2 separate regions of the Homo sapiens genome follow, and region 1 is linked to region 2. The links come from fine-mapping of genetic effects on gene expression. A gene starts in region 2. The other region holds a variant in brackets. All regions are shown on one strand. Distances are between the middles of the regions. Region 1 has its middle 48 kb from the start of SIAH2. Region 2 holds the start of ERICH6 (glutamate rich 6).

What was found. PIP is the estimated chance that this variant, and not a neighbour inherited with it, causes the effect. A credible set is the group of variants that fine-mapping cannot tell apart.
Region 1: its variant is the best candidate, but not a certain one, in a credible set for the expression of ERICH6 in testis (GTEx, PIP 0.70).

Annotation. Positions count from the first base shown.
Region 1 is chr3:150,808,666-150,814,042 of GRCh38, forward strand. No RefSeq gene overlaps it. Among named protein-coding and RNA genes, the nearest start is that of SIAH2, 48 kb to the left of the region's middle. The variant G/A (reference allele first, on the strand shown) is at 3,339.
Region 2 is chr3:150,701,846-150,707,222 of GRCh38, forward strand. It overlaps ERICH6 (glutamate rich 6), which reads right to left and starts at 2,075. Exons shown (of 14, transcript NM_152394.5): 1 at 1,651-2,075; 2 at 276-333. The coding sequence starts at 2,053. It overlaps ERICH6-AS1 (ERICH6 antisense RNA 1), which reads left to right and starts at 1,719. Exons shown (of 3, transcript NR_121675.1): 1 at 1,719-1,822. RefSeq lists enhancers at 1,951-2,030, 2,181-2,270.

The sequences.
Region 1 (5,377 bases), 110 kb after region 2:
GTAGTATCTCAAGAATATTCAGATATTACCAGCCCCATTTCCATTCCCTGCTTGAAGATGAGACTTAATTGTCTGAAGGGGGTGAGGCCTTGAAGGCTGGTTTTGCTCCCTTGGTGATTTGGGCAGACAACCAAGGAGTCATTTATACCTTTATAGCTGAGCCTCTGCAGACCCGACTGGCTACCCTTTCAGAAAATGGAGGTGGTACTCTAGTGCTTTTTGTCTTCCCCAGGAGAGCTTTCAGACTTTTGGTAAATTTGCTTACACTCACGACCCGTGAAGAAATGAACTCTTGGTTCATAGTGATTTTTATTTTACTTTATTTGGGAAGGAAAGCCCTCCCCTAACCTTCCAGCAAGGATTTGCATATATTATTTATTTTCCCTCAGCACAGATACGCAGACATTTTACAGGGGAGTATCCAAGCCTTACTTGGTATTCCTTAAGCAAAAGGATCACAATTGTACTGGTTTCCCCCATTCCTGAAAGAAGGAAGATCATGTCATGGAAAGGGCTGGTCAGTCCAACTCCAGGTGGAGATTTTCTGGAGGATCCCCCCAGCAGCATCTGCTCCCAGTGTTCTGTTCAATACTCTTGGGTCTTCCAAAGGATGTCAACAAATGGGCAAAGTCCTGAGGATTTTCCTGATACACTCGCGTGGAAAAACCAGACTAAGATAGATCAGGTTTCATCCTGAGAAGAGCTTTAGTGAATTTATACCGTTCATGGGGCACCGTTCTGTAATAGCTTAATCCTATGTGGAAAATGATACTCTTGGTCTTATGACCAAGGACTTTTTTTTTCATAGCAACTTAGGTTATTATAGATTTATAATGACAAAAGCAATAATATGCTTTCCTTCCTACACAGAGACAAGGCAGCGAGCCCCCATCAGACAGTTGTGAATTGTCATTATCAGGTAGATAATCTGTTTACACTACTTGGTCTACCCCATTTTCACCTCTAGATTTCACGAAACGTATTTAGGGGGTGCAATGTGTGGAATGTTTTTGTGCAAAGTTACTGTGGTCCATTTGGAGAGAGGGCCTGACTCTTTTGATCCATGTGCTACTCTGCTGCCAGATTGAGCACTCTAAGGGAGAAATCTATCTGACTCATGTCAGCCTCCTGCTTAAATTTTTTTTTGGAGTTTCCCTTAGGCTTTAGGATGAAATCCCAAAATCTTTGATTTGCTCATAGACTATCCCTTCCAGCCTACTTACTCTCTGATAACTCTTCAGATTGCCCTCTGGGTTCTAGTCATACCTACTTTTTTTTTTTTAAGTTAACATTTATTGAGCATGTTTGGTACCATTTGATAACATTGAGCATTCACCCTTTCCCTTTAAGAACCCAGCTTGGTATTTGCACTGCTAGCTTCTTCTCACATACAGTTGGGCCAGGACTGAGTTATGTAGCTACATCTGGCTGCACAGGAGCCTGGGAAATGTATTCTGGGAGGCTGTGTGTCCAGATGAAAACTTTTAATACTACTGTAGTAATATAGAAGAAGGGAAATGAATATTTGGGCGTAATTTTCATTCTTTCACAGTGAATGAGAATTTTAAAATCACTATAGAGTCTATTTTATATTTATACTGGGTTAAGTAAAATCAACATATGGAGTGTTAAATATTTAGTTTATTAAATAGTGATTTATTTTACAGACTCTAAAATCTTTACATTAAGAAGTATCCAGGCTGGCCAACACAGTGAAACCCCGTCTCTACTAAAAATACAAAAATTAGCCCGGCATAGTGGTGCGTGCCTGTAATCCCAGCTACTCAGGAGGCTGAGGCAGGAGAATCGCTTGATCCTGGGAGGTGGAGGTTGCAGTGAGCTGAGATTGCGCCATTGTACTCCAGCCTGAGTGGCAGAGTGAGACTCCATCTCAAAAAAAAAAAAAAAATGTGGATGGAATAATCTGTCATTGTATGTATTATTGAATCAGTTTGGTGGAACAATAGGAGAATGGTTTGTCAGAGAAGGGTTTCTGGAAGAGGAGGCATCTGACCTGATTTTTGAAGCATGTGTAGGAATAAGTCGGCAAAGATGAGCAAAGGCATGTCAGAGCATTTTAATTTCTTCAACTAAAGAAAGAAAGGAGCAGAATTTCAGTCAGGGGTTCTTCTACTGTGCAGAAATTCCTGTGGAGTAGGACAACAAAAAGATGAAAGGACTGAGGGAAGAGCTCTGGTGTCAGGATGGTTCTGCAGTGTTCAGTGGGCAAATGGACAGGATGACTCCAATGAGGTCTAACCCCTCTGGAGTCTGCACTACCCAGCATGCCCTGGATTTGGATGCCATCTTGATTTCATAAAACCTAAGCTTTTTCTCTCCAATGGACACATCTCCTATTTTATAGTGAATATGAGAAAGGAGGAGTTGTTTTGCAGCAACTTTTCTGATACTCATCTATTCTGTGATACAAGGGAAATCTGTTTAGACTTTATGGGGAATTCTTGATTTTAATTTCAAGATTCTTCTACAGATGCATATGATCTATTAGTGTATAAGTTTATTTTAAATCAAAATGGAAAATAAAAAATGCTTTTTGAAAATAGTCTAATTGTTTTCAAATAATGTTAAGCTCAATTGATTTTTCCTGTCAAGTTCTTGTCTATTGAATGACTCCTTTTATAACTGTCGGAAAAAATGCAATGTGCTGAAGGAAAGAAAGAATTTCATAATTATATAGGTCATAAAATAAAATTTTCCATTCCCAAGAGACTCCTGGATGAGCATATTTACATCTAGAAATCAAAGGTCAGAAAGTTTCATTAAATATATTCCTAAATATTTTTAAATTATAACAAAGGGAATTTGGTTAGAATTCTTCTGTCCTGCAGTATCTGACAGGTAGAGAGTATGGGTAGGGAAAACCCTGTGCTGTTCACTGCGTTAAAATGCCTTATGAATTTTAACTTCTCTTTCTAGAGAGTGCAAAATAAGTGGGTGGAGGTGAGGGAGGGGAGCAGTATGTACAATCTTGAGATGGAAAACCAGTTGAGCCCAGTTAGAAAGCTGTCGTCTTATAAACAGTTGTAGCAAACATATGCTCTGTATTTTCATGGTCAGTTTTTATTTCACAGTATGTTTTTCAATAAAGATCACACATGTGGGCTGGGCACAGTGGCTCACACCTGTAATCCTAGCACTTTGGGAGGCCGAGGCGGACAGATCACCTGAGGTCAGGAGTTCGAGATCAGCCTGGCCAGCATGGTGAAATCCCGTCCCTACTAAAAATACAAAAATTAGCTGGATGTGGTAGTGCGTACCTGTAGTAGTCCCAGCTACTTGGGAGGCTGAGGAAGGAGAATTGTTTGAGCCCAGGAGGC[G/A]GAGATTGCAGTGAGCCGATATTGTGCCACTGTACTCCAGCCTGGGCAACAAAGCCAGGCTCTGTCTCAAAAACAAACAAACAAACAAAAAACAACACACATGCAGGTTTGTTCTTAACCTTCCACTCCATGGTACACTCCAGGATTATGACACTCCCACCAGTCACATAGCTCGCTGTGGTGGTAAAACTGGATTTGGGGCTATAGAGAGGTAGCTGACTCAAGTCTGGCTGTTTACCACTCAGAAGTCAAAGCACAAGAAGCGAGGTGTGGTGAAAAGAAAGCAGCTTTTATTCAAATGCTAGCAGACGGGAGAATGATTGGGTACCAGCCTCAAAGGAATCATCTCTGCTGTTTGGACTGAATGAAGGAAAACTTGGTATGAGAAACATGGATGAGTGATGCAGGAGGGTACAGGTCTGTGTGCCTTTTCCTGATGGTCATCTTGAGGAATTGCCCATCTGGAGGTCTGGTTGGCTCATCTTGACTTTGGCCTGGTGGTGGTGAATTCATTGTTCATAACTCCCCTAAGCGGGAGGATTCTGCAGTCAAGTCTCTGTCTGATTTGCTTTAAAATTAGCCCCTAGAATTTCTAAGCAAGCACATAATTAGATAAGCAAGCACTGTACACAGGAGTGCCTGGTGGGAAAGGAGGGAAGCGAAGAGTTTTAAAGTACATTTCAAGGCTGTACTTCGAGATTAGGAAGGAAAGGGAAAAAACCTTAACATGTAATTTGAGGCTTAGATACTTGGTTACAGCTCCCCACTGTGAAATTATATTCCGTTTTTATGGAAAGTGGGAGATGTCAATTTGACTACTTCCTACTGAAAAGGGGGCACAGCTAGGGGGCAACAGAAGAAAACCTGTCCACTTGTAATTGAAAACTTTTCTGAGTCTCTGACCTTGAAAAATTTTTGAAAACTTCTGAAAAATACAGAAGATATTTATTGGAGTGTGAGTGGTGAGTGTGTAATAGCAATAGAGTCCACAGTAGAAGAATAAACTTATTTTTAAAATCATGGCTGAAATTATGAGCAACTTCTTTTACTAGGAGGGGCCTGATCTGAATTATGAGGAGAACCCTTGATTTAAGGACATGACAGGATTAGACATAGCACTAGTTTGCTTGTGCACGTCTTGTAGGGCTGAGGGTGTATTTCCAGAGTTGTGCAGGAAGTATACACAGCATTTAGTCTTAATTACGGTGGACAGTTCCCATTGTCAGTTGTACCTGGAGTTCCTGTGGGGATATGACAACAGGTTGGCTAAATATACATATTTAACAGGTTATAGGAGGGGCTATGAATATTCATAAAGTTGGTCTTGACACATGTGTATTAAATATGTATGTAACATATGACCCATGTTTATTTTGGGATGGAGACTTAAAATATAAATGTACTATAATTAGACCCTGTATGTACAAAAATACACGTTGAGTGTGCAATTTCTGTATACCAGCCAACATTTGTCCATGGTCAGTGACCTTTTTATCAGGAGAAATGTACTGAAATCAGACTCTTGTCTAATTAAAGCTGTAGTTATGCCTGGTGAACAGGGAGTAGGGGTCAGTCAGCTTATCTTGAATCCAGTACTCATTTGGCTGCTCGTGAAAAAGAAACACCTTGTGGCAGCTAGAACATAACTTTTGAAGTGTAGGAGTGCGCGACTTCACTGTTGCCTGGCATGGTCCTGGGTCCTGTTTATAATTTGGTATCTTATTGTTACAAAGAGTCTGTTTTGTCAGTTTTATGATCTATATTTTAACGTTAATGTTGGTCAGTTGCATCTGAATTCCAAAGTGGGGAGGGTATAATGAGGTGTGTCCAGCCCCCTGCTTTCTGTAAAAACCTAAATTAGTTTTTCAGGTTTTTGGGGGGGATCTCCTTTGGCCAAGAAGGGGTTCCATTTAGTATGTTGGAGGGCTTAGAACTTCTTGTTTGTTTGTATTTCCCCTTTTATTTGGTCAAGATATGCCAGAGGCAGTATAGATGGCCAGTCTTTTATTTTGTCCCATATTGATGCCAGGGTGGTCATC
Region 2 (5,377 bases):
CAAGCACTTACAATTGCACACATGGCATATATAGTTATTCTTTCATGTTACATTGATAAGTGGACATGTAATCTCTAGAGCTAGGTAATAAGCTGGGGATAAGTGGGAACCTTTATCTCTTTCAAAGTGTCTACCAGTGTATATTTAAAAAAAACTTTTTAAAATAAGTAAGTCACAAATGCCCTGGATTATTTTACTCTACTTCCTAACATGTTTATCCAAAAGGTAAACATTATTGGGTTCAAAAAATGTGAAATTTGAAAACATTTTCTTACCTATCTATACTCATTTCAGACATGTCTTTCCTAAATGTCTGAAATATTTTAGGGAAACCTGTTGAATGAAACATTTAAAAATCAGCTATTCCCTCTAAATCAAAAGGTCAATTCTACCCCCCCCAGGAACACATGGCAATGTCTGGAGACTTTTTTTTTTTTTTTTTTTTTTTTGAGACGGAGTCTCGCTCTGTCGCCTAGGCTGGAGTGCAATGGCGCGATCTTGGCTCACTGCAAGCTCCACCTCCCGGGTTCACGCTATTCTCCTGCCTCAGCCTCCCAAGTAGCTGGGACTACAGGCGCACGCCGCCACGCCCGGCTAATTTTTTGTATTTTTAGTAGAGACGGGGTTTCACCATGTTAGCCAGAATGGTCTCGATCTCCCGACCTCGTGATCTGCCCGCCTAGGCCTCCCAAAGTGCTGGGATCACAGGCGTGAGCCACCGCGCCCGGCCTGGAGACATTTTTGATCATCGCAAGGATGTGTGCTTCTAGCACAGCCACGGGTAGAGGACAGGGATGCTGCCAAATATCCTGTAATTCACAGGACAGTCCCCAATCCTCCCCAACAAAGAATTATCCAGACCAAAATGTCAACACTAGAGCTTGAGAAGCCTACTCTAGAAGACTTCTCTGCTTCTTTTTTCAAGGAAGTGACTGGAGTGGCTTCAGCACAGGATGTTAAACACAAAAGAGAGTTGTTTTTTTTTTTTGCAGGACTGTTTCAGTAGTACAGCACCCTTAAGGCACTTCTCTGGAAATAATATGAGTGTGTGTGTGTGTGTGTGTGTGTGTCTGTGAGAGAGAGAGAGAGGGAGAGAGAAAGAGAGGGGGAGGGGAGAGGGAGGGGAGGAAGAGGGAGGGGAGGGGGAACAGAGAGAGAGAGAGAGAGAGATGTCACGGTGTGAATGCACGCAAAAATGTTATAAAAATGAGCACTCCCAGCAGCCTGGGCAACATAGTGAGACGCCAGATTAGCTGGGTGTGGTGGCGTGTGCCTGTAGTTCCAGTTACTCGAGAGGCTGCGGTGGGAGGCTTGAGCCCAGGAGGTCGAGGCTGCAGCCACTGCACTCCAGCCTGGGCGACAGAGCGAGACTCTTGTCTAAAAAAAAAAAAGCACTTCATACAGCCATGCCCAAGTTCAACTTTTATGGTGTTTCGCCTATATCCTAAATCGTGCCTCATCACAACAGCTCAGCCAAGGGTTCAGTGTCTCTGACAAGGGCGTGAGAGAGATTAGGTGTGTGGAATGGTGCATGCATTTAGAAATCAGGCACGACGCGCAGGTCGACGAAGGCACCACCCAGGAGTGGGTGGACCAGGTGCCCCCTGGAGACGAGAAACCCTCGAGGAAGGGGTGGGTCGGGGGCGGTACTTTTATGCGAGGAGGTGCTGGAGGGTGGGCTTGCGCTCGGCGTTTCAGTGCTGGTCGCGCTCTGGCTGGGCACGAACGTAGAGGTCAGGCTAGGGCTGACGATGCTGGCTAAGCGGGGGCGCACGTCTGGGAAGTCGTCGTCGTAGTCACCGATGTCCGTGACCTTCCAGAGGTACTCTTCGCTGAACGTCTCAGGGGCCTCCAACTCCTGCTCTTCCCCCACCAACTCCTCCTCCACCACCTCCTCCTCCTCCTCCTCCACCTCTTCCTCCTCCTCCTCCACCTCTTCCTCCTCCTCCTCCACCTCTTCCTCCTCCTCCTCCTCCTCTAACTCCTCCTCTGACTCCTTCTGGTCCTTCTTCCCCGGGTCTCCGAAGCCGCTAGGCGAGCGCAAGTGGGCCATGGCTGGCGGGAGGCGGGATTACAGCCAGCTCTTTGGCCGCGGCCCCGGTCGGCTCTCGCGAGCGCGAGCCTCTGTTGTGCGTTGGTCTCCCCGGGCAACTGCTTGCCCTGCGCCACCGAGCCTCCCGGATTTAAAGCGGCAGGAGCTGGTTAGCCGGATAGAATGTGGGTGCCGAGGGCCGGTGGGGGCCACCGCAGACTTCTTTCTGTCCCTGCTCTTCAGCGTCTCTGAAACCCCTGGCAGCCTGCGGAGAAACGATCTTTTCTTCGTCTCTCAGCTTATTTGGGGCCTTTTTTTTTTTTTTTAACTTGGGTGGAGGAAGTGGCTTCTAGCGACGGACACACACGGTGCCATTTGGTATTGCGGATGCTGGAGTCTGGTTATTGAGTAGACAGATGCTTGCTGGAACGTCCAGTGAAACTTTATTTACAAAATCAGGCGCCAGCCCTTGGGCCCTCGTTTGCGGATATTTTTAAAATAGCTTTAAATATTAATAAGCGTATTAAAATTGCCTTAAATGTTAGTTATCTTAAATATTGTTAGATTAATATTAATTAATCTTGATTGGCGACATTTTTAGCGTCCCATAAATTTTGCTCCTTGCTGTGATCTGGGTCCTGCTTCTTACTTGGCCCATCTATCCATCCTGGAGTAGAAAAGTCCTGAAGCATCTGGCCACCTAGGTACCACCTGCGTCCTTCTGGGACTTTGTATTTACTTACATTTTTGTAAAATATATACATTTTTTATTTTTGAGAGACAGGATGTCACTCTGTCACCCAGGCTGGAGTGCAGTGGCGGCATCATGGTTCACTTCAGCCCTGAACTCTTGGGCTCCAGTGATCCTCCCACCTCGGTCTCCCAAGTGGCAAGGACAACAAATGTGTGTCACCACGCCTGGCCAATTTTATATATTATATTATATTATATTATATTATATTATATTATATTATATTATATTATATTTATTTTGAGACGGAGTCTCGCTCTGTCACCCAGGCTGGAGTGCAGTGGCACCATATCGGCTCCCTGCAACCTCAGCCTCCTGGGTTCAAGCAATTCTCCTGCCTCAGCCTCCCGAGTAGCTGGGACTACAGGCACGTGCCACCACGCCTGGCTAATTTTTTGCATTTTCAGTAGAGATGGGGTTTCACCGTGTTAGCCAGGATGGTCTCGATCTCCTGACCTCGTGATCTGCCTGCCTCAGCCTCCCAAAGTGCTGGGATTACAGGCGTGAGCCACAGTGCCTGGCCTGTATTATATTTATTTTGAGACAGGGTCTTACCCTGTCGCTCAGGCTGGAGTGCAGTGGTGCTATCTCAGCTCACCGCAACCTCCTCCTCCCGGCTCAAGCTGATCCTCCCGCCTCAGCCTCCCGAGTATCTGGGACTACTTTTTGTAGAGATGGCGTCTTGCTATGTTGCCCAGGCTGGTCTCAAACTCTCGGTCTCAAGCTCCTGGGCTCAAGAGATCCTCCCATCTGGGCCTCCCAAAGTTCTTAGGATTACAGACGTGAGCTACTGTGCCTGGCTAGGGAATATTTTTGAAAGTAGAGTTCTTGCAGGCTAAAGGAGCAGGCAGCACAGATGAGAGGAGACATCTGAGTTGCTTTAAAAGGAAGGGCAAAATGTGGTGACCAGAGAGGAAAGTGAAAAGCTTTCCAGCAGGCTCACGGCAGGAAAGGAGGGTCAGGACAGGGAACTATGTGTACAGATATTGAGGTACAAATAAGGTAAGTGTAATTTAAAAAGAGAAAATAAGAAAAAGCTCATTTCTTTTCTGGACAATACTAACAGTTTGATGCTGGAAGCTATCTTAGAAGTTAGGAAATTCAACCAGGGTCCTCAGAGAGCAGACTGGAAGTCAGGATGTGGGGATGAGACACGGGGCTGGCAGACAGCAAGGGTGACAGTGCTTGTGCTTACTCCGCTTGTGCCTGCTGTAGCTCAGTTCTGTGACTGCCCTGGCATTTTCTCAATTGTGTGGTGAATTAATTTGTTTAAGTACTCCTTGTTTAGACCCTCTATTTAAGACCTTTTTTGAACATTTTATGGAATCTCCTTCCCTTGGATCTACTTACTACGGAAAGAACAGTCCCTTATTTTCTCATGAGTTGATGCCACTCTTGTTTTGGCCGTTCAGAGATAATATGATGCTGGGTCAGTTTATATTTTCCCCTTCTCCATTCCTGGTGTCTAGCTTGACTCAGGAACTTGAGATTTGAGAACCAGGCACCAGCCCTGACTAACTGTGACTTTGGGGTTACTGAGCCTCAGTTTCTTGGTGTGTTAAATGGAAATATCAGTACCTTTCCACTTAATTTATGGGGCTATTTTGAGATAAAATTTAATTATTGTTTATTTTCTTCTTCTTTTTTTTTTTTCCTAAGATGGCATCTCAATGTGTTACCCAGGCTGGTCTTGAACTCCTGGACTCAATCCTCCTACCTTGGCCTCCCAAAGTGCTGGGATTATAGGTGTGAGTCATCCTGTCTGGCCTATTTTCTGAGGACTGATTTTGTATTTTATTATTATTATTTTAGGACCACATAACTCTGTTTAGAAAATGTTTCTAATGTATTGAGTGCTTCAAAGGTATATTAGTTCGATTTCACACTGCTATAAGGAATTGCCTGAGGCTGAGTAATATATAAAATAAACAGGTTTAATTGACTCAGTTCCATATAACTGGGGAGGCCGCAGGAAACTTACAATCATGGCTGAAGGTGAAGGGGAAGCAAGGCACATCTTACTTGTTGGCAGGAGAGAGAGAGTGCAGGGGAAACTGCCACTTTTTCTTTTTTTTTTTTGGAGACAGAGTCTCACTCTGTTGCCCAGGCTGGAGTGCAGTGGCGCAATCTTGGCTCACTGCAAGCTTGGCCTCCCGGGTTCACGTCATTCTCCTGCCTCAGCATCCCGAGTAGCTGGGACTACAGGCGCCCGCCACTACGCCTGGCTAATTTTTTGTATTTTTAGTAGAGACGAGGTTTCACGTGTTAGTCAGGATGGTCTCGATCTTCTGCCCTCAGGTAATCCACCCGCCTTGGCCTCCCAAAGTGCTGGGATTACAGGTGTGAGCCACCATGCCCAGCCAGAAACTGCCACTTTTAAACCATCAGATCTCATTGAGAACTCCCTCACTATCACGAGAACCGCATGAGGGAAACCACCCCCATGATCTGATCACCTCCCACCAGGTCCTGCCCTCAACATGTGGGGATTACAATTCAAGATGAGATTTGGGTCAGGAAACAGAGCCAAACCATATCAAGAGGTAATGGATTTTTAAAAAATTTCCTATCTCAAGTATATAATGTTATGTAAT